Regions from separate parts of the Homo sapiens genome. Here all the other regions are linked to region 2. The links come from fine-mapping of genetic effects on gene expression. A gene starts in region 2. Each other region holds a variant in brackets. All regions are shown on one strand. Distances are between the middles of the regions. Region 1 holds the start of LINC02976 (long intergenic non-protein coding RNA 2976). Region 2 holds the start of PEX6 (peroxisomal biogenesis factor 6). Region 3 overlaps CNPY3-GNMT (CNPY3-GNMT readthrough). Region 4 holds the start of LOC124901318 (a long non-coding RNA gene). Region 5 overlaps PPP2R5D (protein phosphatase 2 regulatory subunit B'delta).

The links.
Region 1: its variant is fine-mapped to the expression of PEX6 in pancreas (GTEx, PIP above 0.99).
Region 3: its variant is fine-mapped to the expression of PEX6 in whole blood (TOPMed, PIP above 0.99).
Region 4: its variant is fine-mapped to the expression of PEX6 in unexposed skin (GTEx, PIP 0.96).
Region 5: its variant is fine-mapped to the expression of PEX6 in whole blood (TOPMed, PIP 0.92).

The regions. Positions count from the first base shown.
Region 1 is chr6:42,936,187-42,942,259 of GRCh38, reverse strand. CNPY3 (canopy FGF signaling regulator 3) reads right to left here. Exons shown (of 6, transcript NM_006586.5): 4 at 4,421-4,543; 5 at 4,053-4,170; 6 at 2,966-3,692. The coding sequence ends at 3,469. The region is part of intron 1 of CNPY3-GNMT (CNPY3-GNMT readthrough); the gene reads right to left. It overlaps LINC02976 (long intergenic non-protein coding RNA 2976), which reads right to left and starts at 1,767. Exons shown (of 5, transcript NR_186646.1): 1 at 1,654-1,767; 2 at 1,331-1,487; 3 at 645-750. RefSeq lists an enhancer at 3,154-3,656. The variant G/A (reference allele first, on the strand shown) is at 2,671.
Region 2 is chr6:42,976,409-42,982,481 of GRCh38, reverse strand. PEX6 (peroxisomal biogenesis factor 6) reads left to right here and starts at 3,301. Exons shown (of 17, transcript NM_000287.4): 1 at 3,301-4,213. The coding sequence starts at 3,332. It overlaps LOC124900215 (a long non-coding RNA gene), which reads left to right. Exons shown (of 2, transcript XR_007059580.1): 2 at 1,639-1,940. RefSeq lists silencers at 1,042-1,260, 2,499-2,695, 3,350-3,729 and enhancers at 2,890-2,939, 3,100-4,041.
Region 3 is chr6:42,947,879-42,953,951 of GRCh38, reverse strand. The region is part of intron 1 of CNPY3-GNMT (CNPY3-GNMT readthrough); the gene reads right to left. LINC02976 (long intergenic non-protein coding RNA 2976) reads right to left here. Exons shown (of 5, transcript NR_186646.1): 5 at 5,592-6,073. Among named protein-coding and RNA genes, the nearest start is that of GNMT, 9.8 kb to the left of the region's middle. The variant T/C (reference allele first, on the strand shown) is at 2,447.
Region 4 is chr6:43,036,908-43,042,832 of GRCh38, reverse strand. CUL7 (cullin 7) reads left to right here. Exons shown (of 26, transcript NM_014780.5): 19 at 1-31; 20 at 1,758-1,918; 21 at 2,087-2,303; 22 at 2,407-2,677; 23 at 3,846-3,991; 24 at 4,141-4,267; 25 at 4,361-4,566; 26 at 4,822-5,216. The coding sequence ends at 5,145. LOC124901318 (a long non-coding RNA gene) reads right to left here and starts at 1,797. Exons shown (of 2, transcript XR_007059581.1): 1 at 1,709-1,797. The variant G/A (reference allele first, on the strand shown) is at 2,273.
Region 5 is chr6:42,997,076-43,003,148 of GRCh38, reverse strand. All of the region lies in intron 2 of PPP2R5D (protein phosphatase 2 regulatory subunit B'delta), which reads right to left. Among named protein-coding and RNA genes, the nearest start is that of MEA1, 14 kb to the left of the region's middle. The variant C/A (reference allele first, on the strand shown) is at 3,148.

The sequences.
Region 1 (6,073 bases), 40 kb after region 2:
GAGTCTCACTCTGTCACCCAGGCTGGAGTGCAGTGGTGCAATCTCGGCTCACTGCAACCTCCGCCTCTTGGTTTCAAGCAATTGTCCTGCCTCAGCCTCCCAAATAAGAGGCTGAAACCACCCCAGGCCCAAAAAATAAATTAAAAATTAAAAAAATTATTGGCCGGGTACAGTGGCTCATACCTATAATCCTAGCACTCTGAGAGGCCGAGGTGGGTGAATCATCTGAGGTGAGGAGTTCGAGACCAGCCTGGCCATCATGGTGAAACCCCGTCTCTATTAAAAATACAAAAATTAGCCAGACGTGGTTGTGTGTGGCTGTAATCCCAGCTACTCGGGAGGCTGAAGCAGGATAATCACTTGAACCCAGGAGGAAGAGGTTGCAGTGAGACAAGATTGTGCCAGTGCACTCCAGCCTGGGTGACAGAGTGAGACTCTTGCAAACAAATAAAAAAGTATTTAAATAATTTTTTCTTTTTTTAGACACATGGTCTCACTATGTTGCCTAGGCTAGTCTCGAACTCCTGGGTTCAAGCGATCCTCCAGCCTTGGTCTCCCAAAGTGCTAGGATTACAGGTGTGAGCCTCCACACCTGGTATACAAAAAATAAGATGTTTAAATTAGCCAGGTACAGTGGTGCATACCTATGGTCCCAACTATTCAGGAGGATCACTTGAGCCTGAGAGGTTGAGGCCTGCAGTGAGTCATGATCACGCCACTGCACTCCAGCCTGGGTGACAAAGGGAGATCCTGTTCCAAAAAAGAAAGGTAGGGGAAAGGGTTAGGCATGGTAGTTCCTGCCTGTAATCCCAGCACTTTGGGAGGCCAAGGCAGGTGGATCACTTGAGGTCAGGAGTTCGAGAACAGCCTGGCCAACATGGGGAAACCCCGTCTCTACTGAAAATACAAAAATTAGCTGGGTGTGGTGGCGGTTGCCTGTAATCCCAGCTACTTGGGAGGCTGAAGCAGAGAATCACTTGAACCCAGGAGGCGGAGGTTGCAGTGAGCTGAGATTGTGACACTGCACTCCAGCCTGGGCAACAGAGTGAGACTCTGTCTCAAAAAAAAAAAAAAAAAGACTCAAAACAAAACAAAAAACAAAAAAAAAATCAATGAAGCTGTGGGGACAGAAGTAAGCCAGGCCTTGAAGTGCTGTTAGTGATAGAATGGGGGAATCAGAGGGTGGCCACCAAATCCTAGACAGTTCAGGGGGCAGGAAACACATCCCTGCCCTGGGTACCAGCCCCTCCACCTCACCCCCAGCCATTTTCTATGCTCAGAACAAAGTCCAGGACAAGACCTGCATCTAGACTGTAATCTCACTGCTCACCAGCTCCTTTAACAGGGGGAACATCAGTCCTGGAGATGCAGAGGTGGAGGCTGGACCAAGACAGTATCATTTTCCCAGGACCTGGCGTCATCCTCAACAGCTTAAGGAGAGACAGATTCCATTCTGTTCCACTCTCTATGGCCTTGGCTGCCCTAACCTGGTAGAGGGGGAGAGGCTGGGACCAGGCTATGAGGGGGCCCCTCACTCCCAGTTCAGCCCCCAGAGCCGCTGCAATGGACGCAGGGAGGCTTCAGCAGTGTATCCCTCCTACCCACTGGGCCTAGCCTGGAAGTGTGAGGTAGAGTTGCAGTGTGGGTGCTCACGGGAGATCTGGTGCGGGCACAGCTCCCCCAGGACTTGCTGCCATTCTTTCCTTCCAATAAGCCACAGCTGCTTCCTATTCGCCTTTTAGGAATCTTGGTGGTGGTTAGGCCAGGCGCAGTGGCTCCCACCTGTAATCCCAACACTTTGGGAAGCCGAGGCAGATGGATCATGAGGTCAGGAGTTCAAAACTATCCTGGCCAAGATGGTGAAACCCCGTCTCTACTACAAATACAAAAAAATTAGCTGGGCGTGGTGGCAGGTGCCTGTAATCCCAGCTACTCGGGAGGCTAAGGCAGAGAATTGCTTGAACCCGGGAGGCAGACGATGCAGTGAGCCAAGATCACACCACTGCACTCCAGCCTGGGCAACAGAGTGAGATTCCGCCTCAAAAAAACAAAACAAAACAAAACAAAACAAAAAGAATCTTGGTGGTGGTGACAGGTTAAGGCCAAGAAACTAAACCAGTTCGATACAACTCACACTGTCAGTGCCAGGGGTTGGGGGAAGAGGCCCTGGCAGCTGTGGAGAGTGGAAGTACCATGGATTTGTAATCTGAACGCCAGTGTCTGCGTCCCAGCTATACCACTCCTTAACAGCAGGACCTTGACTCCAAGGTCACCTGACTCCAAGCATATCACTTGACTCTAGCCTGTTTTCTCCTCTACACAATGAGGTTAACAGCACACCTCACAAGAGTGTGGTAATAGTAAAAGTTAAAGCATACAATTTGAATACATACAATTGTCATCACTACTGTACCAATTGCCCCGATCCCTGCCTTCAGGACAAACTGGGAGGTGCCTGAGCTTCCCCACCCCTTCTCCCTAGAGGCCAGCCTCTCTGCTCCTCCCTTGGCCCTGAGGAACATGGTGTGACCAGATGGTGTTGGGAACCGGGTGTCCTCCCAACTGCACTCCAGGTACAACAGCTAGGAACCTCAGAGTGATCAAGTGTGGTCATCAGAAAACAAGGTTCAGGACCAACAGTCAAGGCCAGGTGGAAGTAGGAACAGGGGC[G/A]GGAGCTGGCCAGGTAAACACTGCATTTTACACAACAAATGGGAGGCCTTGGGAAGAGGAGCAGCAGGAGAGAGGGAGGGAGGGAACGGCAGCCAGGTGTCCAGGACACGAGGGAGCAGCGTAAGGTCAGTGCACTGCCCTGGGCCTCATCCTATGCCCATGCCTCCCCTCACCCCAAGACAACCCTGGGCCTTCCCAGCACTTGCTGCTCCCGAGAGTGGGTGGGTTTTAGCCTTCCCCTCCTCAGCCCCACGGGCTGGAAGGCGAGGGGCAGGAAAGAACAAGAGGCTCCAGGGCACCTCTGAGGGCTGCAGAGGACTCAGAAATCAGAACCAGAACATTTTTACTCTTTGGGCTCTGGGAAGGGCCAGGCAGAGTGCAAGGTGTCCACAGGAGGGGTAAGCAGAGAGGAGCTACAGGGGGCTGCAGTCCTAGTACCCTGTTGGGGAGGACTGAGGGATGGTGAGTTTGGTCTCCGGAGGGGGCTCCAGTCCTGGTGCCCAGTTCTGACACCTGCCCCTCCTGAGTTCACACTGGAGTCCTTGCAGTCCTGAAACCACAAGGCCTGCCTGAACCCTGGGTCAGGAGAGAAACACTTGGGGAGGGGAAAGGACGGCGTGGGCTACCCATGACGGCTCTGAGTTCTTCCTGGGGCTTGTGTCTTTCCTTGGCAGAAGAGGGCACAGCCAAGGCAAGGAGGGGCTGAAGGCTGCGGGGCCATCCCGGCCTGCCAGAGCCATGCCCCTGACTCCTCAGCTTCAAAATCAGGGGTCTCAGGACAGAGGATGCTGGGTGGGCTCAGAGCTCATCAGGGGGGCTGTGTGTGAGAGGGGATGCCTTCTGGATGCCCTCATCCTCCTCGGGGCTGGGGTCTCCCTCAAGGCCACCCAGCTCCTTCCTTTGTTTGCTGCTGCTACTCCTGCCGCCTGCTGCCTTGGCCCTGCTGCTCTTCTTCTTGGACTTCTTCCCTCCCAGGGCAGCTGTGTCTCCCTTCTTGCCGGACCACTGCTCTGCCAGGCAACCTAGGGTGTGGAGGAGAGAGACCCTCAACAGAAGTGCCTCAGGGCTGGGGTGCTGGGCAAGGAGCACTGAGCAGGGAGCCGTGGGAGTAGCAACTGGGACTGTGCTTGACATCAGCCTCCCTGCCTCCTGCCTCTCGCTGTGGCCACCAGGCCCCTCTGGGGGCATCTGACTTGTCTGCCCATCATTCTGCACCTGGTTTCAGTGACTCTTACTTCACCATGTCTTGCCAATCAAGCCTTTCAAGGGCAGAGATCCTACAATGCCCTCTGGTGCCCTCTGTTTCTCCTCCTACCCACCTCCCCCAAGGGAGAGCAAACAAATCATCCAGAGCCAGCCTGCCCTTGCTTCCCCAAACTCACTGGTGTCTTTTCCCTTCAGCACGTGGTTGGCGCAGAGGAATTCAGTCAGGTCTTCCTCCTGGTGGTTCCTGTACCAGTCCTCGATCACCTCCTCAAACTCTTCCACCAGCACATCACACTGTTAATCATAATACCTCATATTGGCAAAGCCCCAGCACCTGACTCGCTCCTAGAGGAGCTCAGCTAAGCCTCGCAACCCACTGCAAGGTAGGCAGTGGCAGCGGTTCACCTAAGGAAACTGAGGCCAGAGAGGTGAAATGACCTGACCAAAGCCACCCCGGCCTGGGTGGACTTCCTCAGAGCAGACCCAATCCCCACCAGCCCCTCACTGGGCACAGCAACCCTTCCAAGGGCTGAAGGGCCTGTACCTGCTTCTTGAGGTCAGCCACCTCTGCAGAAGTCTCGTTCCACAGCTCATAGGGGATGTCCATCACCACCTTGACCCCTTTGTGTACCAGGTTGTGTAATGTCTCAAAGGTCTCTGACATGCCCTGGAAGAAGCGACCAGATATGGCAGGCGGAGCTCCCTTCTCTCCCTCCCACCCTCGTCTCCCAGTGGTGGCTAAGAACCCAGCTATAAGACCAATGCTCAACGCCCTCTAAGGATCCTCATCCTTTTTTTTTTGAGAAGGAGTCTCACTCTGTCGCCCAGGTTGGAGCGTCTCAGCTCACTGCAACCTCTGCCTCCCAGGTTCAAGCGATTTTCCTGCTTCAGCCTCCCAAGCAGCTGGGACTACAAAGGCGTGCCACCATACCCGGCTAATTTTTGTAGAGTTGGGGTTTTGTCATGTTGGTCAGGCTGGTCTCGAACTCCTAGCATCAAGTTTTCCACTCACCTCAGCCTCCCAAAGTGCTGAGATTACAGGCGTGAGCCACCGCACCTGGCCTCATCCTTGACCTGACCTTCCTCTTCCCTCTTTTAGGCCTGCTTCCCACAACCCCTGCACATATACCCCCTGATCTGCCTCTGCACACCTCATCGCTTCAAAAAGACCTGCGGCTGCCCTCAGGCCCTTTGGCTTTATGCTTCTTTTCCAGGAAATAGGTTTGTCTTAGCTCTTTCCCCTCACTATGGCTGGAAACACTCCCATATCATCCAGACCTGCTGTTCCGTTCTTCCTGGGTTGTGTCTTTCCTCAGTGGGAAAAAGGCATAGCTGAGGCAGGTAGACCCTTTATTCTGTAAAAACTATCTCTGCTAGCTGCCTAGGTCTTATCCCCAGAGAAAACATACTATCCATTTCCTCTATTTTCCCAGAGATAACTCATACAAATACCAATATCTAAATATATCCTCCCCCCGCCTTTTTACACAAGCAGTGGTATAGCATACACACTATTTTGCACTTGCCCTTTTTACTTATACCTTGAAGGGCTGGGTGCAGTGGCTCATGCCTGTAATCCCAGCACTTTGAGAGGCCAAGGTGGGCTGATCACCTGAGGTCAGGAGTTCGAGACCCCCTGGCCAGCATGGTGAAACCCCGTTTCTACTAAAAAACACAAAAATTAGTCGGGCGTGGTGGTCGGTGCCTGTAATCCCAGCTACTCAGGAGGCTGAGGTGGGAGAATAGCTTCAATCTGGAAGGTGGAGGTTGCAATGAACTGAGATCGCACCACTGCGCTCCAGCTTGGGCAACAGAGTGTGAGACTCTGTCTCCAAAACAAACAAACACACAAAAACCTTGAAAATCAATTGAATTCAGTTCCTAAAGAGCCTCCCCATGCTTCGTTTCCAGCCGCATACTAGTCCACCAAACGGCTGGATCAACGTATTTAATCCCCTATTGGTAGAGTTAGATTGTTTCTCATTTTTTTCCTGCTATGAAAAATAATTCTTAAACACTTTTTATTAAAGCAAACACAGATTTATTACTGAGTGCAAAATTCATACAAATTTCTGCTGCTTGAGACTATTCCCTTAGGTATCCCAGGAGTTTATGAATGGTATCCTTTGCTAGAAGGAAACTTAGGTAGAAAAATGTGGGTGGCAACTATCTTACCCTGTGCCAGGCACTGAAGATG
Region 2 (6,073 bases):
AGGTCAGGCGCAGTGGCTCACGCCTGTAATCCCAGCACTTTGGGAGACTGAGGAGGGCGGATCACCTGAGGTCAGGAGTTCAGGACCAGCCTGGCCAACATGGCAAAACCCCGTCTCTACAAAAATACAAAAATTAGCCAGGCATGACGGTGGGTGCCTGTAATCCCAGCTACTCAGGAGGCTGAGGCAGGATAATCCATTGAACCCGGGAGGTGGAGTTTGCAGTGAGCCGAGATCGCACCATTGCATTCCAGCCTGGGCGACAGGGCAAGACTCCATCTGAAAAAAAAAAAAAAAAACACAAAACCTGTGTCCCTTACCCAGGTACCCAGGAGAGCAATGTTACAAGACAGTGGCCGTGGGGATGGAGAAGAGAGGATGGAGCATGAAAATGTGTAGAATCAACAGGATATGGTGATTCATTGTATTGTGGGGGGGACGGTAACGGAAAGGGAAGAGTTGAGGATGATTTCTGGAAGTGATCAGAGTTGTAGGAGGACAACTGGTGTCATAATGGCAAAGGAAATAAAAGACAATTGGTCAGTAGTGTCAGAGAAAGAACAGCATCATCTTGATTCTGCAATTAGAAGATTATGGGTGATTTTTTCAGAGAGTGGAAGACCGTTTTTAGTGAGTGGAAGAGTGAGCATCAAGAGGTGAGGAAGTGAAGATGGCAAATGTAGGGTCCTGGCGATCTTACAGAAGTAGTATTTGGCTTTCGGTGACTAATGACGATTTCAGGGTAACACAAAGTGGACTACATGCCCGCTGTTACCTGCTGGGAGAAAAGCTTGGGAGAAAAGGACATTTATTTGTGGGTGGGTATTTGTGTCTGTATGAGTGCTGATCCAGGCAAGATAACTGATGTTTTTACCCATCTCCAAGGCCTCAAGGAGCACTATAGTCCTGAGGCCTAGAGCTTGCCTGCTACTGAGGAAAGCAGGCATATCCTCTTTAGGCCCATGTACCATCTATCTAGCCCTTGGTTCCTCTGGGACATAGGGGACCAAGAAACATATAGTAGCACTACCAAATGGGAACTTTCATCCATGTGAATCTAGGTACCTAGAACATTCTTTATTTAGTTTTTTTTTCTTTTAATTTTATATATTTTAAGAGACAAGGTCTTGCTCTGTCACCCACTTGGAGTGCAGTGGCACAATCATAGCCTCAAATTCCTGGGTTCAAGTGATCCTTCTGCCTCAGCCTCCCCATAGCTGGGATTATAGACACAAGCCATGGTTCCTGGTTAGTACATTCTTGCATGCTATTTTATTTATTTTTTTCTATTATTTATTTTTTTGAGACGGAATCTCACTCTGTCACCCAGGCTGGAGTGCAGTGGCGCAGTCTCGGCTCACTGCAAGCTCTGTCTCCCGGCTTCACGCCATTCTCCTGCCTCAGCCTCCCGAGTAGCTGGGACTACAGGCACACACCACCATACCCAGCTAATTTTTGTATTTTTAGTAGAGACGGGGTTTCACCATGTTGGCCAGGCTGGTCTCAAACTCCTGGCCTCAAGCAGTCCACCCACTTGGCCTCCCAAAGTGCTGGGATTACAGCCATGAGCCACTGCGCCCAGCCCCTTATAATATGCAAATCTAATAGTTTTCATATATTTGTCTTTCAAATTTTCAGGAATGTATAATGTACAAAATAGAAGACTGCCTCAAGAAGAAAGGAGAGATGGAGAAAGCTGAGCAGTAGCTGAAAGAGAATGTAAGGTCTAGAAAATGGAGATTGGCACCATCCAATTCATTTATTGTAAGTGAAAATAATTGTTAATAATTGGAAATGCAGTGGGACATGATGGCTTATGCCTGTAGTCCCAGCACTTTGGGAGGCTGAGGCCTGAGGATCTCTTCAGACCAGGAGTTTGAGACCAGCCTAGGCAACACAGAGAAACTCTGTCTCTACAAAAAATAAAAAATTAGTCCAGGCGCAGTGGCTCATGCCTGTAATCCCAGCACTTTGGGAGGCGTAAGCAGGTGGCTCACTTGAAGCCAGGAGTTCGAGACCAGCCTGACCAACAGGGTGAAACCCCGTCTCTACTGAAAATACAACATTAGCTGGGTGTGGTGGCACACACCTGTAATCTCAGCTACTTGGGAGGCTGGGGCAGGAGATTCTTTGAACCTGGGAAGCGGAGATTGCAGTGAGCTGAGATCGTGCCATTGCACTCTGGCCTGGGCAACAAGACCGAAACTCCGTCTCAAAAAAAAAATTGGCTGGGTATGGTGGCGTGTGCCTGTGGTCCCGGCTACAGTTACTCGGGAGGCTGAGGTGGGAGATCACTTGAGCCTGGGACGGTAGAAGCTGCAATGAATGGGGATCGTGCCACTGTACTCCAACCTGGGTGACAGAGTAGGACCCTGTTGCCATAAAAAAGGAAATGTGGCCTACCACTAGCTGAGTGTCTTGTACAGAACAGTGGAGGTGAAGAGAAGGATGGAATCTAAATAACAGCACACGCAGGAAGTCGACTGTTGGTGTTATGCTGACAGAAGCCTTGAACTCCTTTCCTTCTGCCTGCTCTGCTGCCTGCCCCGCTCTAGGATAGAAAGTGAATGGGTTTCCGATCTGCAAGGATTTGGGGGGGGGGGGTGAAAGAAAAGCTGTTTTGTCTTCAACTTAAGTTTGGTGGGAGTAAAACAAACAGAACAATGAACAGGGCAAGAAGTCCTGGAACATGGGTTTTGTGCCAGATGTGCTGGAACATGTGTGGTGGCACCAAGCACTCCAGGGCTGTATGAATCACATCTAGTAATTCACTCAGCAGCCACTATATACCTATAAGCAAGTGTGAGACAGTTTTCTAATCCTGCTACTCCCTCCTGCAACCTTTCCTGCAACCCTCAAACCTCAGTGCTCACAGTTCCACAGGGGAAGCTGCAGGAGCTCCGCAGAGGAGCGGACTCCTTCCGAAACATTTCACCTAGAGCTCCCAGTACTGGGCCCAGTCATCCCGAGCATGCTGACTGTTCATTTATCAGTCAATAAACTGTTACGTTCATGCCACGGGGAAAAATAGTTAAGAGAACATTACTTCCGTAGAAGGCAAAGATAAATCCCTTAAGCACAAGTTCAAATGGCGCATGGGTAAACGCTACGCAACCGCAGCGATGAAGGTTACTGCCTATCGAGGCACGACGCAGATCAATCCGAGGCGCAGCTAACCCCCTCAGAGCAAGTTCGCGGCACCCGACCCCCCTCCCCTTTTCCTCTGGCCTCCCCTGACGGAAGCGGAAGCGGCCCTCGCGCACACTAGTCGTCTGGCTCTCTGGCTCCGGAAGCTGCGCTCCTTCACCCTCCTCGTTGGTGTCCTGTCACCATGGCGCTGGCTGTCTTGCGGGTCCTGGAGCCCTTTCCGACCGAGACACCCCCGTTGGCAGTGCTGCTGCCACCCGGGGGCCCGTGGCCGGCGGCGGAGCTGGGCCTGGTGCTGGCCCTGAGGCCTGCAGGGGAGAGCCCGGCAGGGCCGGCGCTGCTGGTGGCAGCCCTGGAGGGGCCGGACGCGGGCACCGAAGAGCAGGGTCCCGGGCCGCCGCAGCTACTGGTTAGCCGCGCGCTGCTGCGGCTCCTGGCACTGGGCTCCGGGGCCTGGGTGCGGGCGCGGGCGGTGCGGCGGCCCCCGGCGCTAGGTTGGGCACTGCTTGGCACCTCGCTGGGGCCTGGGCTCGGACCGCGAGTCGGGCCGCTGCTGGTGAGGCGCGGAGAGACCCTCCCAGTGCCCGGACCGCGGGTGCTGGAGACGCGGCCGGCGTTGCAAGGGCTGCTGGGCCCAGGGACTCGGCTGGCTGTGACTGAGCTCCGCGGGCGGGCCAGACTGTGTCCAGAGTCTGGGGACAGCAGTCGGCCCCCACCCCCGCCCGTGGTGTCCTCCTTTGCGGTTTCTGGCACAGTGCGGCGACTCCAGGGAGTTCTGGGAGGGACTGGAGATTCACTAGGGGTGAGCCGGAGCTGTCTCCGTGGCCTTGGCCTCTTCCAGGGCGAATGGGTGTGGGTGGCCCAGGCCAGAGAGTCATCGAACACTTCACAGCCGCACTTGGCTAGGGTGCAGGTCCTAGAACCTCGCTGGGACCTCTCTGATAGACTGGGACCCGGCTCTGGACCGCTGGGAGAGCCCCTCGCTGACGGACTGGCGCTTGTCCCTGCCACTTTGGCTTTTAATCTTGGCTGTGACCCCCTGGAAATGGGAGAGCTCAGAATTCAGGTAGGATAAAGGACTGGGGTCAGGAGTGCTTCCTCTTTCTTATACCCTCTTCTCTGTCTTAGGTAAATTGGAAGATTTAGGACTCGTGCCCCATATCATCCCGGACTTTGAACATAATGTTTCTAGCCGGGCGCGGTGACTCACGCCTGTAATCCCAGCACTTTGGGAGGCCGAGGCGAGCGGATCACTTGGGGTCGGGAGTTCGAGACCAGCCTGACCAACATGGAGAAACCCCGTCTCTACTAAAAAAATGTAAAATTAGCCGGGCGTGGTGGTGCATGCCTCTAATCCCAGCTACTTGGGAGGCTGAAGCAGGAGAATCGCTTGAACCTGGGAGGCGGAGGTTGCGGTGAGCCAAGATCGCGCCATTGGACTCCAGCCTGGGCGATAAGAGTGAAACTCTGTCTCAAAAAAAAAAAAAAAAAAGCATAATGTTTCTTAGCCTCATTTATCTATTTTCTTTTTCTTTCTTTCCTTTTTTTTTTTTTTTTTTTTTTTTTGAGATGGGGTCTTGCTCTGTCACCCAGGCTGGAATGTGGTGATGCGATCTCGGCTTACTGCAACCTCCGCCTCCCAGGTTCAAGCGATTCTCCTGTCTCAGCCTCCTACTACTGGCTCGCGCCACGACGCCCGGCTAATTTTTGTAATTTTTAGTAGAGACGGGGTTTCACCGTATTGGTCAGGCTGGTCTCGAACTCCTGACCTCAGGTGATCCACCCAAAGTGTTGGGATTACAGGCGTGAGCCACCTCACCCGGCCTATTGATCCATATTCTGTAATCAAAATATCATAAGCCTCCATAATGTAGTGGGGCATACAAAAGGCTTTCATCCATTCAGGTGAAAGGTGAAGTTTGGGTGTGGTGGTGCATGCCTGTAATCCCAGCTACTTGGGAGGCTGAGGCAGGAGAATTGTTTGAACCTGGGAGGTGGAGGTTGCAGTGAGCCCAGATCACACCACTGCACTCCAGCCTGGACGACAGAGCGAAATTCTGTGTAAAAAAAAAAAAAAAAAAAAGTGAGGTTTCAGATGTGTATGTTAATCTACTCAATCTAATTAGTTTATTGAATTGCTACAATGTATTCAGTATTGTGCTTTATAATATGGAGGATGATGTCTCTGTGCTTTTGCTCATTCTTATCCTTGACTTCAAATTGTTTCCTATTATTCTAGCCTCATCTGTTAAAATCCTACCCTCCTTTCCCTCAAGAGCCATCTAAAGATGACACCTTTATCACAAAGCCTTTCATGATCTCACAGCCACGAATTTAGAACTTCCTCCTATAGCATTTTCTATCTTTTTTATGGCATTTATTTTATTCTATCTTGTTATGATTACATAATCTGTTTAATCCCCAATTATATATTGTAAATACCTTGAAGGAAAGGAGTCTTTATTATCTTTGGTGCCTGGTGTTTAGTTTTAATATTTTATTAAATACATCCAAGGAAAGTTTTTGGTTTCTGCCTTTACTTCAAGAAGAAAGTTGTAGAACAGATAATAGTTGTTCCATTTCCATGGGTTACTGAGTAAAGACTCACCAGTTCGCCATAACAGACATAAGAGTGACAAAAAAATAAACCTTCATTGTGTAAAAAAAAAAAAGGCCAGGCGCAGTGGCTCATGCCTGTAATCCCAGCACTTTGGGAGGCTGAGCCAGGCAGATCACTTGAGGTCAGGAGTTCGAGACCAGCCTGGCCTACATGGTGAAACCTCATCTCTACTAAAAATACAAAAATCAGCCCAGTATGGTGGTGCACACCAGTAAACCCAACAACTGGGGAGGCTGAAGCAGGAGAATCGCTTGAACCTGGGAGGTGGCAGTTGCAGTGAACCCAGATCACACCACTGCACTCCAA
Region 3 (6,073 bases), 29 kb after region 2:
CTTATATATGGATAACTTTATACTTTAATAGATAAAAAATGAAGGCCCAGTGCAGGTAAAAAACTTTAATGGGGCCAGGCACGGTGGCTTATGCCTGTAATCCCAGCACTTTGGGAGGCCGAGGCAGGTGGATCACCTGAAGTCAGGAGGTTGAGACCAGTCTAGCCAATGTGGTGAAACCCCATCTCTACTAAAAAAATATATATATATATATACATAAAAATTAGCTGGGCATGGTGGTGCACCTGTAATCCCAGCTACTCGGGAGGCTGAGGCATGAGAATCGCTTGAACCCGGGAGGCAGAGGTTGCAGTGAGCCAAGATGGTGCCATTGCACTCTAGCCTGGGCAACAAAAGCGAAACTTCGTCTCAAAAAAAAAAAAGTATCCCTCATGATGGGTTCTATAGCAAATTCTACTGTAAAGGCTACAGTTATACAATAGACTTTAAATTCTCTTGTGAAAGTTAAGATAGAATTGGCTAAACAGAGAAGTATCTGTGCAGCTGCTGGCACTTGTGGCCTACGGAGAAATACATCACATGAAGATTATAGAAATATAGTGGTAGGGGATTAACAAAGAGACTGCTTAGTCAAATGAGTAAACTTTTTTTTTTTTTTGAGACGGAGTTTTGCTCTTGTTGCCCAGGCTGGAGTGCAATGGCACGATCTCGGCTCACCGCAACCTCTGCCTCCCGGGTTCAAGCGATTCTCCTGCCTCAGCCTCCCGAGTAGCTGGGACTACAGGCATGCACCACCATGCCTGGCTAATTTTGTGTTTTTAGTAGAGACGGGGTTTCACCATGTTGGTCAGGCTGGTCTTGAACTCCCGACCTCAGGTGATCTGCCCATCTCGGCCTCCCAAAGTGCTGGGATTACAGACATGAGCCACCACGCCCGGCCATGAGTAAACTCTTTATCTAGTTCATTCTTTGATCTATGTGATTTTAGGTGGTTTGGTTTATGGGGAACCTGGGTAAGGAGCATACTCCAAACTCTTGGTATCATCCTCCCGATAGTCATAATAATAGTCTCCCTGGTGCGCTCTATTCTCTCAAAGGTTTTAAATGCTTGCGTGCAGCCATCTCTAGAATGTCAAATGGTCTCTCTTCAACTGGAATAACAGGAGCTAAAAAAATGTGCAACCATAAGGACACTATAAGCTATAAATGATGTGCTGAGATAGGAAACCCAAAATGATGGTAACTGAGAGTGGCGCTAAGTCCCTAAGGTTTGGTCACACTCTCACTTAAATGACAGCCTAACCAAAAAGGGTAATTTTTTAAACAAAATTATGGAAGGCCATTGTTTTGGACTAGGCTCATGCACTAGGCCTCAACAAACCAAACCAAAATGGAGTCGCTCATGCTAGGACTTTAAGGAAACACATAGATTCTAAAACAGACCAAGTTTTTTTTCTCCTGCAAATCTCTATGACAAACCTTTCTTTTTTTTTTTTTCTGAGACGGAGTCTCACTCCCTCGCCCCCAGACTGGAGTGCAGTGGCTCAATCTCAGCTTATTGCAACCTCCACCTCCCAGGTTCAAGCAACATTCCTGCCTCAGCCTCCTGAGTAGCTAGGATTACAGGCATGCACCACCCCGCCCGGCTAATTTTTTTGTATTTAGTAGAGACAGGGTTTCACTATGTTGGCCAGGCTGATCCTGAACTCCTGACCTCGTGATCTGCCTGCCTCGGCCTCCCAAAGTGCTGGGATTACAGACGTAAGCCACTGCGCCTGGTCAATATAACAAACATTTCTAACAGCATAGGTATCCACCCCCTGCAGTTCCCATTAAATGTTTTAACCAAATTCATTTCCTCTTGCCTAGAGACCATCAAGCTTCAGCTGATCATGCAACAAAGCTTCCAGCCAGTTCCAGGTGAAGACATCACCCCTGGCCATCAAAAAGCTACCCTGCCTCCACTAGACAGAGCAGGGTGAGAGTTCCATGATCCCTAATAGGTGGGGACCATCCCCCAAGCCAGCATGAAGCAGTTACAGAAAAAAGACCATCTGTCCCTCTGCCTCCCATAAAGATTTATGGGGATCACATCTCAGGGGGCAGATGAGGCAGGAAAATAGGGTCTGGAGGCAGGTAACATAAGGCCAATTCACACTTCATCTATAACAGGAAATATCCTCTCCTTAGGGCATACATCATTAATAACTTTGCAATTGTAACTTTACTTCATCTTCTTCATTTACATAGGGCATTCCCCAAGTAGAGGGTATTTAAACTCACAAACATTTTTAACAGGGCCTTTGAGCCCCTATGCTCATTCTCGCTCCCACACTGTGGAGTGTACTTTCATTGTCTTTTTTTTTTTTTTTTTTTTTGGGATGGAGTCTCGCTCTGTCGCCCAGGCTGGAGTGCAGTGGCGCAATCTTGGCTCACTGCAACCTCCACCTCCTGGGTTCACACCATTCTGCCTCAGTCTCCCAAG[T/C]AGCTGGGACTACAGGTGCCCACCACCACGCCTGGCTAATTTTTTTGTATTTTTAGTAGAGATGGGGTTTCACCGTGTTAGCCAGGATGGTCTCAATCTCCTGATCTTGTGATCGGCCCGCCTCAGCCTCCCAAAGTGCTGGGATTACAGGCGTGAGCCACCGCGCCCGGCTCATTTTCAATAAAACCCTTCATTCCTTCCTTGTTTGTGCATTTTGTCCAATTGTTCGTTCAAGATGCCAAGAACCTGGACACCCTCCACCATTAACACATGGACAAAGTCCAGGGCCGGGAATGGGGGTGCTTGGTGTCCTTGCTATTCTTTATTTTTTTTTGAGATGGAGTTTCGCTCTTGTTGCCCAGGCTGGAGTGCAATGGCACGATCTTGGCTCACTGCAAACTCCACCTCCTGGGTTCAGGCGATTCTCCTGCCTCAGCCTCCCAAGTAGCTGGGATTACAGGCATGCACCACCACACCCAGCTAATTTTTTTGTATCTGATCCTACAGATGCATCTTTGGCAACAGGTTTAGAAAGCCTGGATTGGGGCCGGGCATGGTGGCTTATGCCTGTAATCCCAGCATTTTGGGAGGCTGAGGCGGACGGATCACCTGAGGTCAGGAGTTTGAGACCAGCCTGGCCAACATGGTGAAACATCATCTCTACTAAAAAATACAAAAATTAGCTGGGCGTGGTAGCAGGCACCTGTAATCCTAGCTACTCAGAAGGCTAAGGCAGGGAGATTTGCTTGAACCTGGGAAGCAGAGGTTGCAGTGAGCTGAGATTGTGCCACCGCACTCCAGCCTAGGTGACAGAGTGAGACTTTGTCTAAAAAAAAAAAAAAAAAGCCTGAATTGGAGAATTATAAGTAAATCCACTCTTTATTTTACAGAATATTCTGGGGAAAATTTACTCCACTACCCTTAGATTTTTTTTTTTTTTAATCTCATGTTAATTATCTTGTCTGGGCATGGTGGCTCATACCTGTAATCCCAGCACTTTGGGAGGCCGAGGGGGGCAGATCACTTGAGGTCAAGAGTTCCAGACCACCCTGGCCAACATGGCAAAGCCCTATCTCTACTAAAAATACAAAAAAATTAGCCGGGCGTGGTGGCACGCGGCTGTAGTCCCAGCTACTTGGGAGGGTGTGGCACAAGAATCACTTGAACCGAGGCGGCAGAGGTTGCAGTGAGCTGAGATCAAGCCACTGCACTGCAGCCTGGGTGACAGAGTAAGATTCCGTCAAGTGATTCTCCTGCCTCAGCCTCCTAAGTAGCTGGGATTACAGGCATGCGCCAACACACCCAGCTAATTTTTTTGTATTTTCAGTAGAGATGGCGTTTCACCATGTTGGCCAGGCTGGTCTCGAACTCCTGACCTCGTGATCCGCCTGCCTCGCTTCCCAAAGTGCTAGGATTACAGGCTTGAGCCACCTTGCCCGGCCTTAAAAATGCATGCTTGGTCAGGAGCGGTGGCTGAGACCTGTAATCCCAGCACTTTTGGGGGCCGAGGTGGGCAGATCACTTGAGGTCAGGAGTTGGAGACCAGCCTGGCCAACATGGTGAAACCCTGTCTCTATTGAAAAGACAAAAATTAGCTGGGCGTGGTGGCAGGCGCCTGTAATCCCAACTACTTGGGAGGCTGAGGCAGGAGAATCGCTTGAACCCAGGAGGCAGAGGCTGCAGTGAGCCGAGATTGTGCCACTGTACTCCAGCCTGGATGACTGAGGGAGACTCTGCCTCAAATAAAAAAAAAAAAAGAAAAAGAAAAAGAAAAAGAAAAAAAGTCTGGAGAATGAAGAGTGATTGGAATAATAACCAAGATGATACGGGAATAATTTCTTTGTCACTGTCTACAAATAGATTGGCTATATATACAATATTTGAAATGTTAAGTGGCTTATGGCAGTTTATTATTTTTCCCTTTATTATTACTTTCTTTTCCATTTGCTTTGTGTGGGAAAGGAATGCTGAAGGAGGTAGTAGGGTCACTCCTTTTTAAAATTTAATTTTTTTTTTTTTAAAACAGGGTCTTGCTTTGTCGCCTAGGCTGGAACACAGTGGTGTGATCATAGCTCACTGCAGCCTCGAACTTGCAGGCTCAAGCGATCTTCCCACCTCAGCCTCTTGAGTAGTTGCCATTATGGGGGTGCGCCACCATGCCTGGCTAATTTTTTTTTTTTGGTATGTCTGTGTCACTCAAGCTTGTCTCCAACTCCTGGGCTCAAGTGATCCTCTTGCCTCAGCCTCCCAAAGTGCTGGGATTACAGGCATAAACCACCTCACCCGGCGTGTTTGAACTCTTCTTTACATATTATTCGTTGATATTTCATTAGGTAGAATATTGTATCTAATTATATCTATTATATCTTCTTTAATTATTGCCAAAATATACCAAATAATTGCAATCCTTCATCTACAAATTGTCCATGTCCTGCCCACTAAAATATATTAAAACTGCTTTTTATTTTACTTAATTCGTCTCTATAAATTTTATTTTATTTTTGTAGAGACAGTCTCACTTTGTTATCCAGGCTGGTCTCAAACTCCTGGGCTCAAGCAATCCACCTGCCTCGGTTTCCCAAAGTACTGGGATTACAGGCATGACCACCATGCCTGGCCATCTCTCTGTAAATTTTAGATGCCCTGGGCCATGGAAAAGATCACAGAATATAAATCAATTTACTGTTTGACTTCACTGAAAATAAGAATAGGTCCAGCCTGGCCAACATGGTGAAATCCTGTCTCTACTGAAAATACAAAAATTAGCCGGGTGTGGTGGCACACACCTGTAATCAGCTACTCAGGAAGCTGAGGCAGGAGAATCACTTGAACCTGGAAGGTGGAGGTTGCAGTGAGCCAAGATCGCGCCACTGCACTTCCCTGGGCAACAGAGTGAGACTCCATCTCAAAAAAAGAAAAAAGAAAAGAAAAGAAGAACAGGTGATATTTTAAATGTGGGACACATTATTTGGAATTGGCTGAAAAGACTAAATTCTTCATTCCTAAATGTGTGACATGTTTGCAAAAAGACTTCATCTTGGGAATGTGGCTGTAACTGGACAAACTCCAAGTCCTATTTGAGGACACATTAAAATCCTGCAATTGTGAATTATGTAGATACAATAACTGCGAATGGGAGACATCCTGGTTGTTTTGGTGTTTTTTATTTTTATTTGCTTTTTAGAGATGAGGGTCTCACTGTGTTGCTCAGGCTGGACTGGAACTCCTGGGCTCAAGTGATCCTCTCAAGTCACTTCCCAAGTAGCTGGGACTACAGGTGTGTACTGCACATGGCTTGTTTTGTTTTGATTCAGAACAGGCAGAAATTCATTTTTCCAGTGATGACTGCCAAATTCCAAACTCTAGTCCAAGCCATTGCATAAAAATTCTTCTCTGCTAATTGGATCTACCCCAGACTGAACATTGAAACACTTGAGGAGTGGTGCTAGCAGATCCACCCACCCACTTGGATCTCCTAGCAGAATTATCAAAGCAGATCCTTTTTTGGACTTTTAAGAAAGTCCTGTTAGTTGTCAAATAGGTCTCTATATCAGTGGGTCGTAACACTAATAATGGCAACATTACTATTAAGCGTAGTGTTATCAGTGAGTACTCCACTGATGTGTA
Region 4 (5,925 bases), 60 kb before region 2:
GCTGAAGCTCCCTTTTCTCAAAGCTGCCCACGTAAGCCTCTACCCTTGCCTCATCCTTGGGTCTCTTCCGACAAACTCTCCCTTCCTCACCTCCTCCAAATGACCCACCCTTCCATTCCCATTCTATGATGAACATATGTTAGTATATAGCCATGTTATAAGAAGTTTAAAAAATTGAAAAAAATAAATAGTGGCCAGGTGTGGTGGCTCATGCCTGTAATCCCAGCACTTTGGGAGGCCGAGGCAGGCAGATCATCTGAGGGCAGGAGTTTGAGGCCAGCCTGGCCAACATGGCCAAACCCCATCTCTACTAAAAATACAAAAATTAGCCAGGCATGGTGGCACATGCCTGTATTCCCAGCTACTTGGGAGGCTGAGGCAGGAGAATCGTTTGAACCCAGGAAGTGGAGGTTGCAGTTGCAGTCAGCCGAGATTGCACCACTGCACTCCAGCCTGCGTGACAGAGCTAGACTCATCTCAAAAAAAAGAAAAAAACAAAAAAACCCCCCACAATTGATGAGCTAAAATGCAAGAAGCACCCTGGAAAGCAGGGTACAGAGCAGCAGGAACATGAGGCTCCTTGTGTAGCCTCCAGTCCTAGTTTATCAGTGACACTGCATCAGGACCATCTTTGTGTATGTAACTTACCTCCTTGTGTCCGTCTTTCTTTCTCTCTCTCTTTCTCCCTTCCTGCCTTCCTTCCTTCCTTCCTTCCCTCCTTCCCTCCTTCCCTCCCTCCTTCTCTCCCTCCCTCCCTCCTTCTCTTTCTCTCTTTCTCTTTCTTTCCTTCTCTCTTTCTTTCTTCTTCCTTTTTTTTTTTTTTTTTTTTGAGACGGAGTCTCGCTCTGTTGCCCAGGCTGGAGTGCAGTGGCTCGATCTCAGCTCACCACAACCTCCGCCTCCCAGGTTCAAGCGATTCTCCTGCCTCAACCTCCCAAGTAGCTGGGATTACAGGTGCATGCTACCACGCCCAGCCAATTTTTGTATTTTTAGTAGAGACGGAGTTTCACCACATTGGTCAGGCTGGTCTCGAACTCCTGACCTCGTGATCCGCCCGCCTCACCCTCCCAAAGTGTTGGGATTACAGGCATGAGCCACCTCTCCCTTCCCTTCCCTTTCCCTTCCCTTCCCCTTCCCTTCCCTTCCCCTTCCTTTCCCTTCCCTTCCCTCCCCTCTTTTCCTCTCCTTTCTTTTTCTTTCTCTCCCTTTCTTTCTCTTTCTTTACTTCTTTCTTAACAGGGTCTTACTCCCTCCCACACTGGGATGCAGTGGTGCAGTCACAGCTCACTGCGGCCTCAACCTCTTGGGCTCAGGTGGTCCTCTCAGCCTTCTGGGTAGCTGGGACCATAGGCGTGTGCCACCATGCCCAGCTAATTTTTTCGTATTTTTAGTAGAGATGGGGTTTTGCCATGTTGCCCAGGCTGGTCTCCAACTCCTGGGTTCAAGCCATCTGCCTGTCTCAGCCTCCCAAAGTGCTGGAATTACAGGCGTGAACTGCGCCTGGTCTTATTTTCTCATTTTGAATGATTATTATTAGTTTGATTTTTTAGACACAATGTGAAAAGACACTTTCCATAATTGTTAATATTGCTAATTTGTACAATGGTTAATGATCTTATAAAATAGTTGTATGAAAGCACCAACCACCTTAGAAAGCTGCCAGCATTCATATCTACTTTCCAGACCCTCATCCCTCCTCCCCACTCACCTGCTCTGCTCGCTCATTCATGGCTTTCCTGTGCTCTGCCATTGCTCAGGTGAGTGAGCAGTTCGCCCGGCACATTGACCAGCAGATCCAGGGCAGCCGGATCGGTGGAGCCCAGGAAATGGAGAGGCTGGCACAGCTGCAGCAATGCCTGCAAGCTGTCCTGATTTTCTCCGGCTTGGAGATAGCCACCACTTTTGAGCATTATTACCAGTGAGTGTGGACCTAAGGAGCGGGAGCTGGCGGGAGGCAGGATGATGGTGGCAGAGCCAGCTCATGGGCCTGGAAGTCTGGGATAGAGGCAGGCTGGAGCCTTGGAGTGGGAGGCTGGGCCACACTGGTGCCCACACTGAGGCTTGGCCCGGGCTGCATGCACTGCAGGCACTACATGGCGGACCGTCTCCTGGGCGTGGTCTCGAGCTGGCTGGAGGGGGCCGTGCTGGAGCAGATCGGTCCCTGCTTCCCCAACCGCCTCCCCCAGCAGATGTTGCAGAGCCTGAGCACCTCTAAGGAGCTGCAGCGCCAGTTCCACGTCTACCAGCTCCAGCAGCTGGATCAGGAACTCCT[G/A]AAGCTGGAGGATACAGAGAAGAAAATACAGGTGAGTGCCTTGGAAGGGATAAGCAAATAAGAGGGTAGGGGGAAGAGGGGCGTGGAGCAGACTGGAGGAGGCCATGGCATCTGGGAACCCTGTGCTCCTTCAGGTGGGCCTTGGGGCCAGTGGCAAGGAGCACAAGAGCGAGAAGGAAGAGGAAGCTGGGGCAGCAGCAGTGGTGGATGTGGCGGAGGGAGAGGAGGAAGAGGAGGAGAATGAGGACCTCTACTATGAAGGGGCAATGCCAGAAGTGTCTGTGCTTGTCCTGTCCCGACACTCCTGGCCTGTTGCCTCAATCTGCCACACACTGAACCCCAGAACCTGCCTGCCCTCCTACCTGAGGGGCACTTTGAACAGATACTCCAACTTCTACAACAAGAGTGAGCAGCCAGGCAGAGGGACTGGGGACTGGGGAGAGGGTGGGCTGCTAGGAAAGGACCTGGGGTTGGGGGCAGACCCTGATGTTGGGAGGCTTGATGTAAAAAGAGATAGTCTTTGGCTGGGCACAGTGCTCACGCCTGTAATCCCAGCACTTTGGGAGGCCGAGGCAGGCAGATCACTTGAGGTCAGGAGTTCAAGACCAGCCTTGGCCAACATGGTGAAACCTCGTCTCTGCTAAAAATACAGAAATTAGCCGGGTGTGGTGGTGTGTGCCTGTAGTCCCAGCTACTCGGGAGGCTGAGGCAGGAGAATCACTTCAACCCACAGGCAGATGTTGCAGTGAGCCGAGATCGTGCCACTGCACTCTAGCCTGGGCGACAGCGAGACTCCATCTCAAAAAAAAAAAAAAAAAAAAAAAAGAGTTGGTCTTTTAATTTACATTTTTAATTTTTGTTTTTATAGATTCAGGGAGAGATAGTCTTTAGGGATAAGAATTCCCTAGGCCATGGGAAAAACAGTGGTTTTGAGAACAAAGGGCAGGAGCTTGGTGGCTGGGGGTGGCAGGTGCTGTCAGATACCTGATCCCCAGACCATTGCTTTTTCTGTTCTAAAATAAGACCTGGGAATCTCTTTGTGGGTGACGGGGAGGATGGAGGCAGGAGGCACCTGAGGCCACCAGATATGAGTAGGTGTCTGGCTCTTTTCTGGTCAGTCACCTGTCATCCTAAACTCCCCATCGGGGGCTGATCCCTGAGCTGGCAGCAACACAGGAGGGGGAAGAGGCTCAGACCTGTGGTCAGGGCGCCTCCTAATAGGGGAGACATTGTTTCCTGTCATAATATTCCAGCTTGATAAGAGCCCCAGTCCTTCCTCCCTTCATGGTTTTGTCTCCCTAAAAACACATGGGGCAATCCTCGAAGGCACTGATGAGAACCTGCTTGGCACCAGGCTAGGCATAGGATAGCTCCCAGATCCTGAGGCTTGCCATAGAGGCAGGCCCAGAGAAGGCTGAGATCTGGAAGCTCAGACCAGAAGCCCCAGTGTCCATAAATGCTGGGGTCACACGCCTTGCAGAGATAAACAGAGCGTGACCAGCGTGCACCCTCCCTCCAACACCAACTCCCTCCTTTCACCTGCTCTTTGTCTCCCTCCCCCTTCCTGGTCCAGGTCAGAGCCACCCTGCCCTTGAGCGAGGCTCACAGAGGCGACTGCAGTGGACGTGGCTGGGCTGGGCTGAGCTGCAGTTTGGGAACCAGACCCTGCATGTGTCCACCGTGCAGATGTGGCTACTGCTGTATCTCAACGACCTGAAGGTGGCCCAGCCCCGCTGCACCTCTCTCCTGTCTCCCACTTTGTCCCTTGCCTCTCTTCCCAAAACCTTGACTCCCTCTGCTTCTTCCCTCCATCCTCTTCTCTCCACTCCTTGGGGAGGCCCTGAATGTCTCCCATCTGTTCTCTGAAGGCGGTCTCTGTGGAGAGTCTGCTGGCGTTCTCAGGGCTCTCCGCAGACATGCTCAATCAGGCGATTGGGCCCCTCACCTCTTCAAGAGGCCCCCTGGACCTTCACGAGCAAAAGGATATACCAGGAGGTATGCACTTAGGGCCAGAGGGGCCTCTGCTCTGAGGCAGGGCCAGGCTCCTCGTGGGCTCTCCACTGAGTGAGTGATCAGCATTTATTTCAGGGGTCCTCAAGATTCGAGATGGCAGCAAGGAACCCAGGTCGAGATGGGACATTGTGCGGCTCATCCCACCTCAGACGTACCTGCAAGCTGAGGGTGAAGACGGCCAGAACTTGGAGAAGAGACGGAATCTTCTGAACTGCCTCATCGTCCGAATCCTCAAGGCCCATGGAGATGAGGGGCTGCACATTGACCAGCTTGTCTGTCTGGTAGGCAGGGGTGGGCACAATGGGTGACAGATCTTTGCTGGGGTTGGGGGAGCAGTCTACAGGACAAGGTGGGTGCACGTGTGGTGAGGCACCTGGTTCACTGTGTAGCCTGTAGGAGTGTGAGGAGTGAGGTCGGGATGTACCTCGTGTCCTTGGGGCATCCTGTCCTAGCAGCTGGTGGTTGGAGTGGAAGCTCAAGCAAGGAGGGGTCAGCTGCCTCTAAACTACCGCTTCTCCCTTCCTCCCCCACACCAGGTGCTGGAGGCTTGGCAGAAGGGCCCGTGTCCTCCCAGGGGTTTGGTCAGCAGCCTTGGTAAGGGGTCTGCATGCAGCAGCACTGACGTCCTCTCCTGCATCCTACACCTCCTGGGCAAGGGCACGCTGAGACGCCATGACGACCGGCCCCAGGTGCTGTCCTATGCAGTCCCTGTGACTGTCATGGAGCCTCACACTGAGTCCCTGAACCCAGGCTCCTCAGGCCCCAACCCACCCCTCACCTTCCATACCCTACAGATTCGCTCCCGGGGTGTGCCCTATGCCTCCTGCACTGCCACCCAGAGCTTCTCTACCTTCCGGTAGCCCTAGACTTGGGGTCAGGGGAAGGTAGAGCTGGAGCTTTTACAGAAATAAAACCCAAGAGTTTGATTATATGACGTGTGTGTTTGGCGACTGCTAGAGATTTGAGTGGGGAGGTGGGAGGGTTTTCCTTGCTGGTGGAGAAGGAGCCCTTGGCACTGAGGCTGTCGCATGATATGCCAAGGGTCTTGTTAGGGTGAGGATGGTAGACTGGGAGAAAGGCAGAGGGAGTCAGGTGTGACTTAGCACCCCCTCTAGGCAGAGATTGAGAGGACCAGGCAGGATGATGGCACTCAGCCCCTTCTCAGAGGGTGTGTGGTCAGAAGTGCTTTCATCTGGCAGGCTGGAGATCCAAGCCCAACTTGGCCACTCACCAGATGGTTTGTAACTTGGGCAGATTATCGAGCAGGGTTTAATTCTCCTCGTTTGTGGAACTGGCCCAGTCACTGTGGGACTGCGACAAGTAACAGGTATGGAAGCATTTGACGTGGTGAATGAAGGCATTGCCAGTGAGTCTCTATTTTGGCCACCATTGCCAACAGTGAATGTGGTTCCTTGGTGCCTTCCCTAAGTAAGACTGACATGATGAAGGTGAGGTCACTGACCCCTGTGGCCACTGCAGGCACCCAGCAACCTGAATGTGTATTCCATCTGATGGCATAGGCCCAGAAAGAACTGTTCTAGCACAGTTCTTACTCCCACAAGCTCCTCCGTTTTGCCCCTTTCTTCCCCTCCTCTGCCTCCACCCCTTCTCTGTCCTTGCAGAGCTGCACACGCTGTCAT
Region 5 (6,073 bases), 21 kb before region 2:
GCCCAGCCTAAAAGCTATCCCTTTTTAAAGGCATAGCTCCCAGACACAGGTGTTACAGCCCCATGAAGTCCATTTTCAGAAGTCTAAATACAGGTATTTGCAGGGCTGTCTGCCCACAGGTACTCCTGGACTGTCCAGGCAGCCCCCTGTTGGGAGAGGAAAGAAGCTAAACCACAGGACAGCCCTTGCCCCCAAACAGAGTCTAGAATAGGACTAGGCAGAGGCCATGTCCAGCTGGGTACCCTCACCACAGGGAAAGGGAAAGGTGACCTCTTGGCCTCATACCTGCCATCTCCCGCTCCTCTCCAGCTCCCATCCCAAACTCTTACTCCTTACCATAATAATAGAAGAACTTGAAATCCTCTGGGGTGGGGGAGGGAAGGAAGACAGAAATGTTATTAATTGCATCCTCTGAATTTTTTATAAAAACAATGATGTGGACTTGTCACCTATCTAGGGATGAGAGAACAGGAGAGGAGCACCGGGTCCAGCCTGTGGGTCCCGTGTATTAGACATGGCAAGGCATCTGGAGGTCTGAGGTCTCCCTTTCTACATATGGCAGATGAGTTGCACCTTGGGGTGGGGGAAGTGGTAGTAAGAGAAAAGCAGGTTGGGGGCCAGCACTTGGTGTGTATCCAGACACTCCTCTGCCTCAGGCCTCCATTTCCCTGCCTTAAGAACAACTAGGCCAGGCACGGTGGCTCACACCTGTAATCCCAACTCTTTGAGAGGCAGAGGCGGGCGGATCACGAGGTCAGGAGTTTGAGAGCAGCCTGGCCAACATGGTGAAACCCTGCCTCTACTAAAGATACAAAAAATTAGCTGGGCGTGGTGGCACGTGCCTGTAATCTCAGCTACTCGGGAGGCTGGGGCAGGAGAATCTCTTGAACTCGGGAGGCAGAGGTTGCAGTGAGCTGAGATCATGCCATTGCACCCCAGCCTGGGTGATAGGGCGAGACTCCGAATCAAAAAAAAAAAAAAAGAACAACCAAACCCTTATCTGTGGAGCTTGGTGCTCAATAACACCTTGGGCCAGACTGCCTGCCTGGGTTCAATCCTGGCTCGCCACTTATTAGCTGAGTAATATCCAGAAAGTCTGCACCTCAGTTTTCTCATCTACAAAATGGGATGACAACCATACCTACCTTATAGCACTATCGTAAGGATAGAGATGAACAGTTCCTCGCACTAAAGAAGCATTTTTTTTTTTTTTGAGACAGAGTCTGGCTCTGTCACGCACTAAAGAAGCATTTTTTTTTTTTTGAGACAGAGTCTGGCTCTGTCACCCGGCTGGAGTGCAGTGGCGCAATCTCAGCTCACTGCAACCTCTGCCTCCCGGGTTCAAGCAATTCTCCTGCCTCAGCCTCCGGAGTAGCTGAGATTACAGGTGCGTGCCACCACGCCCGGCTAATTTTTTGTCGTATTTTTAGTAGAGACGGAATTTCACCATGTTAGCCAGGCTGATCTCGATCTCCTGACCTCATGATCCGCCCGCCTCAGCCTCCCAAAGTGCTGGGATTACAGGTGTGAGCCACCGTGCCCAGCCCTAAAGAAGCATTTTATAAGAGGTACCTTCTACTACCACCACTACTATTACTATTATTTCCCATATCCAGGTTTTAGGAATGCAGCCTAGAATCTCCTTCCTATGCTAGCACAACTCAAATGTTCCGTTGAGTCCATTATCCTCATTTAAAAATGGGGGATCCTGGCCGGGCACAGTGGCTCATGCCTGCAATCCCAGCACTTTGGGAGGCCGAGGCAGGTGGATCACCTGAGGTTGGGAGTTCAAGACCAGCCTGACCAACATGGAGAAACCCCAACTCAACTAAAAATACAGTTAGCCGGGCGAGGTGGCGCATGCCTATAATCCCAGCTACTCGGGAGGCTGAGGCAGGAGAATTGCTTGATCTTGGCAATGAGCTGAGATCATGTCATTGCACTCCACCCTAGGTAACAAGAGTGAAACTCTGTCTCAAAAAAGAAAAAGAAAAGGAAGAAAATCAGGAACCTAGGAAATCACTGCATCTTCCAAGACTCAGTTTAAGTCCCACCTTCTTCCAAAAAGTCTTCTCAGATCTTTCCAGCCCTTGGGTGTCACCCCCTCTTTTTGATACCACTTGTCTCTTCCCTTGGCGCTGTGACTGCTCACCCCCTAGTGACACCTCTTAGTCTCTTCATGTGTCATTCCCCTAACTAGATGGCAAGTCCTTTGAAAGCCAGGACCCTGTTTGTACCCCTCTGGGTGCCCCCAGCACTAACACCTAATAGGAATTCAATGAAGGTTTGGTTGGTTGGTTGACCAGGAGCCAAAGCTCTCAGGTCCTGCCCAGGCTCCTCCCCACAGACTCTTCCTCTCCTGCCCCAACTCAGGAATCCTCAGAACAGGGGGCTATACAGCATTAGGAGCAGAGTCTGAAGGAGAAACATCAGTGATACTAGGGTGAGGGGCTCAGTGCCAACCTGACAACAAGACTCCATCCTTCCAGGTAAGATGCAGACACCCTGTACTTCCACACACCTCACACTGAGGAGGCAGCCAGAGAGGGGCATTCTTCCCAGAAAGGGAAAAGGAAGGCCTCAATGTTTTCTGCTAACAAGAAGGTAGCCAGGCACGGTGGCTCATGCCTGTAATCCTAGCACTTTTGGAGGCCAAGGCGGGTGGATCACTTGAGGTCAGGAGTTCAAGACCAGCCTGACCAACATGGTGAAACCCTGAGTCTACTAAAAATGCAAAAAAACAATTAGCTGGGTGTGGTGGTGCACGCCTGTAGCCCCAGCTACTCAGGAGGCTGAGATGGGAGAATTGCTTGAACCCAGGAGGCAGAGGATGCAGTGAGCCAAAATCACACTACTGCACTGCAGCTTGGGATTCAGAGCAAGACTCTATCTCAAAAAAAAAAAAAAAAAAAGGTGGCCAGACGTGGTGGCTCACGCCTGTAATCCCAGCACTTTGGCAGGCCAAGGTGGCTAGATCAGGAGGTCAGGAGTTCGAGACCAGCCTGGCCAACATGGTGAAACCCCGTCTCTACTAAAAATACAAAAATTAGCTGGGCGTGGTGGCGGGCGCCTGTAATCCCAGCTATTCCGGAGGCTGAGGCAGGAGAATCGCTTGAACCTGGGAGGCGGAGGTTGCAGTGAGCCGAG[C/A]TCACGCCACTGCACTCTAGCATGGGCGACAGAGCAAGACTCCATCTCAAAAAAAAAGAGGTGGCAGGACTAGATCAGTGGTTTCCCAACGATTATTCCGGTAAGGTTTAGAGAGAACAGGGGGTCTTATGCTCCACCAATGGCCAGGCATGGTGGCTTATGCCTGCAATCCCAGCTCTTTGGGAGGCCGAGGCGGGCAGATCACCTGAGGTCAGGAGACCAGCCTGGCCAACATAGCAAAACCCTATCTCTACTAAAAATACAAAAAATTAGCCAGGCGTGATGGTGGGGGCCTGTAATCCGAGCTACTCAGGAGGCTGAGGTGGGAGAATCACTTGAACCTGGGAGACAGAGGTTGCAGTGAGCCGAAATCGTGCCACTGCAATCCAGCCTGGGCAACAGAATAAGACTCCATCTCAGAAAAAAACAAAACAAAACAAATGAAACAAAATAAAAACCACCCAATGAGCTGATATCTAAGGTCTTTTCTACACTAGCATTGTGTTATTGAAGGCTAGAGTGGCTGGAGAGCAGCTGAATGGGCTTAGTCTGCCCTGCCCCCTACCCCACTGAGCTGCCCTGGTTTATAAGGACCATTGGCTCCCAAGATCCAGACACAAGAAGCATCTGAGAGACAGCTGTTTCTGCCAGCGAAGCCCCTGGCTGCCAAGCCCCAATGAGGTATCCGCTGTCTATTCACCCTTCACTAGGAAACATGCATGTCAGAGGGAGGTGGGGGATATGTCAACTACTCATGGGCATTCAACCATTTCTCTTAAAAGCCCCAGCCACTAACTTGTGCATTCACCTGGGTTGGGGGTAGAAGGCAAGTGAGTCCCCTGAGAAGCTTCTGCAGCCATCAAAGCAGGGGTGGACACTGACCAAAGGCAACTTGGCCAATCTGTCCTCTACTCGCTACTTTGTCCTGCCCAGTTTCACTTCGGGACTCTATTTATTTATTTATTTTGAGACAGGGTCTCACTCTGCCACCCAGGCTGAAGTGCAGTGGTGCAATCTCAGCTCACTGCAACCTCTGCCTCCCAGGCTCAAACGATTCGCCTGCCTGAGCCTCCTGAGTAGCTGGGATTACAGGCGTGCACCACTAGGCCTGGCTAATTTTTGTATTTTCAGTAGAGACGGGGTTTCACCATGTTGGCCAGGCTGGTCTCGAACTCCTGACCTCAAGTGATCTGCCTGCCTCAGCCTCCCAAAGTGCTGGGATTACAGGCGTGAGCCACCGTGCCTGGCCTACTTTTCTGTAGTTTTTGTAGAGACAGGGTTTCACCATGTTGCCCAGGCTGGTCTCAAACTCTGGAGCTCAAGCAATCCACCCGCCTCAGCCTCCCAAAGTGCTGGGATTACAGGTGTGAGCCACCATACCTGGCCCTCACTTCTGGGACTCCATAGAGGCCATCTCTTCTGCCTGAAGTACTACTACTTTCACTTCCAAACTCTCAACAGGATCCATACTCCAAGAAGCCTTCCTAGATTCAGGCCTCCAGCAATCAAGTGGCACTGTGAATTTCCACACGACACTCATACTCAGAAAATTCCAACTAAACGTGCCTACTCTGAACCTATCCTGGTCCAGCCTATTCCGAACACGGCCATCATTAATAATTAAACCCACGCTGGGCACAGTGGCTCATGCCTGTAATCCCAGAACTTTGGGAGGCCGAGGCAGGCAGATCACGAGATCAGGAGTTTGAGACCAGCCTGACCAACATGGTGAAACCCTATCTTTACTAAAAATACAAAAATTAGCTGGGCGTGGTGGCACGCACCTGTATTCCCAGCTACTCAAGAGGCTGAGGCAGGAACATTGCTTGAACCCGGGAGGCAGAGGTTGCAGTGAGCCAGCATCACACCACTGCACTCCAGCCCGGGTGACAGAGTGAGACTCCGTCTCAAAAAAAAAAAAAAAAAAAAAAAAAAAAAAAAAAATATATATATATATATATATATATATATATATATATATATATAAATAAAACCCAAATATTCAAATATAAATAAAGAGATAGGGGCCTGGCATGGCGGCTCACGTCTGTAACCCCAGCACTTTGGGAGGCCAAGGCAGCAGATCACTTGAGAACAGTTCGAGACCAGCCTGGACAATATGGCAAAACCCCGTCTCTACTAAAAATACAGAAGTTGGCTGGGCATGGTGGCTCACCCCTATAATCCCAGCAGTTTGGGAGGCTGAGGTGGGCGGATCGCCTGAGGTCAGGAGTTGGAGACCAGCCTAACCAACATGGTGAAACCCTGTCTCTACTAAAAATACAAAATTAGCTTTTAGTACAAAATGTACTTTTAGTACAAAAATTAGCAGGGCATGGTGGCGGGCGCCTGTAATCTCAGCTACTTGGGAGGTTGAGGCAGGAGAATTGCTTGAACCCGGGAGGTAGATATTGCAGTGAGCTGAGATCGCGCCATTGTACTCCAGCCTGGGCAACAAGAGCGAAACTCCATCTCAAAAAATAAAATAAAATAAAAATAAAAATAAAAACGGCCAGGCACAGTGGCCCACGCCTGTAATCCCAGCACTTTGGGAGGCTGAGGTGGGCAGATCACCTGAGGTCAGGAGTTCAAGACAAGCCTGACCAGCATGGAGAAACCCCATCTCTACTAAAAATACAAAATTAGCCAGATGTGGTGGTGCATGCCTGTAATACCAGCTACTCAGGAGGCTGAGGGAGGAAAATCACTTCAGTCCGGGAGGCGGAGGTTGCAGTGAGCTGAGATCACGCCATTGCACTCCAGCCTGGGAAACAACAGCGAAACTCCGTCTCAAAAAATAAATAAATAAAAATAAATAAAATAAATAAAAATACAAAATTTAGCCGGGCGTGGTAGCGGGCGCCTGTAATCCCAGCTACTCAGGAGGCTGAGACACAAAAATCACTTGAACCCGGGAGGCAGAGGT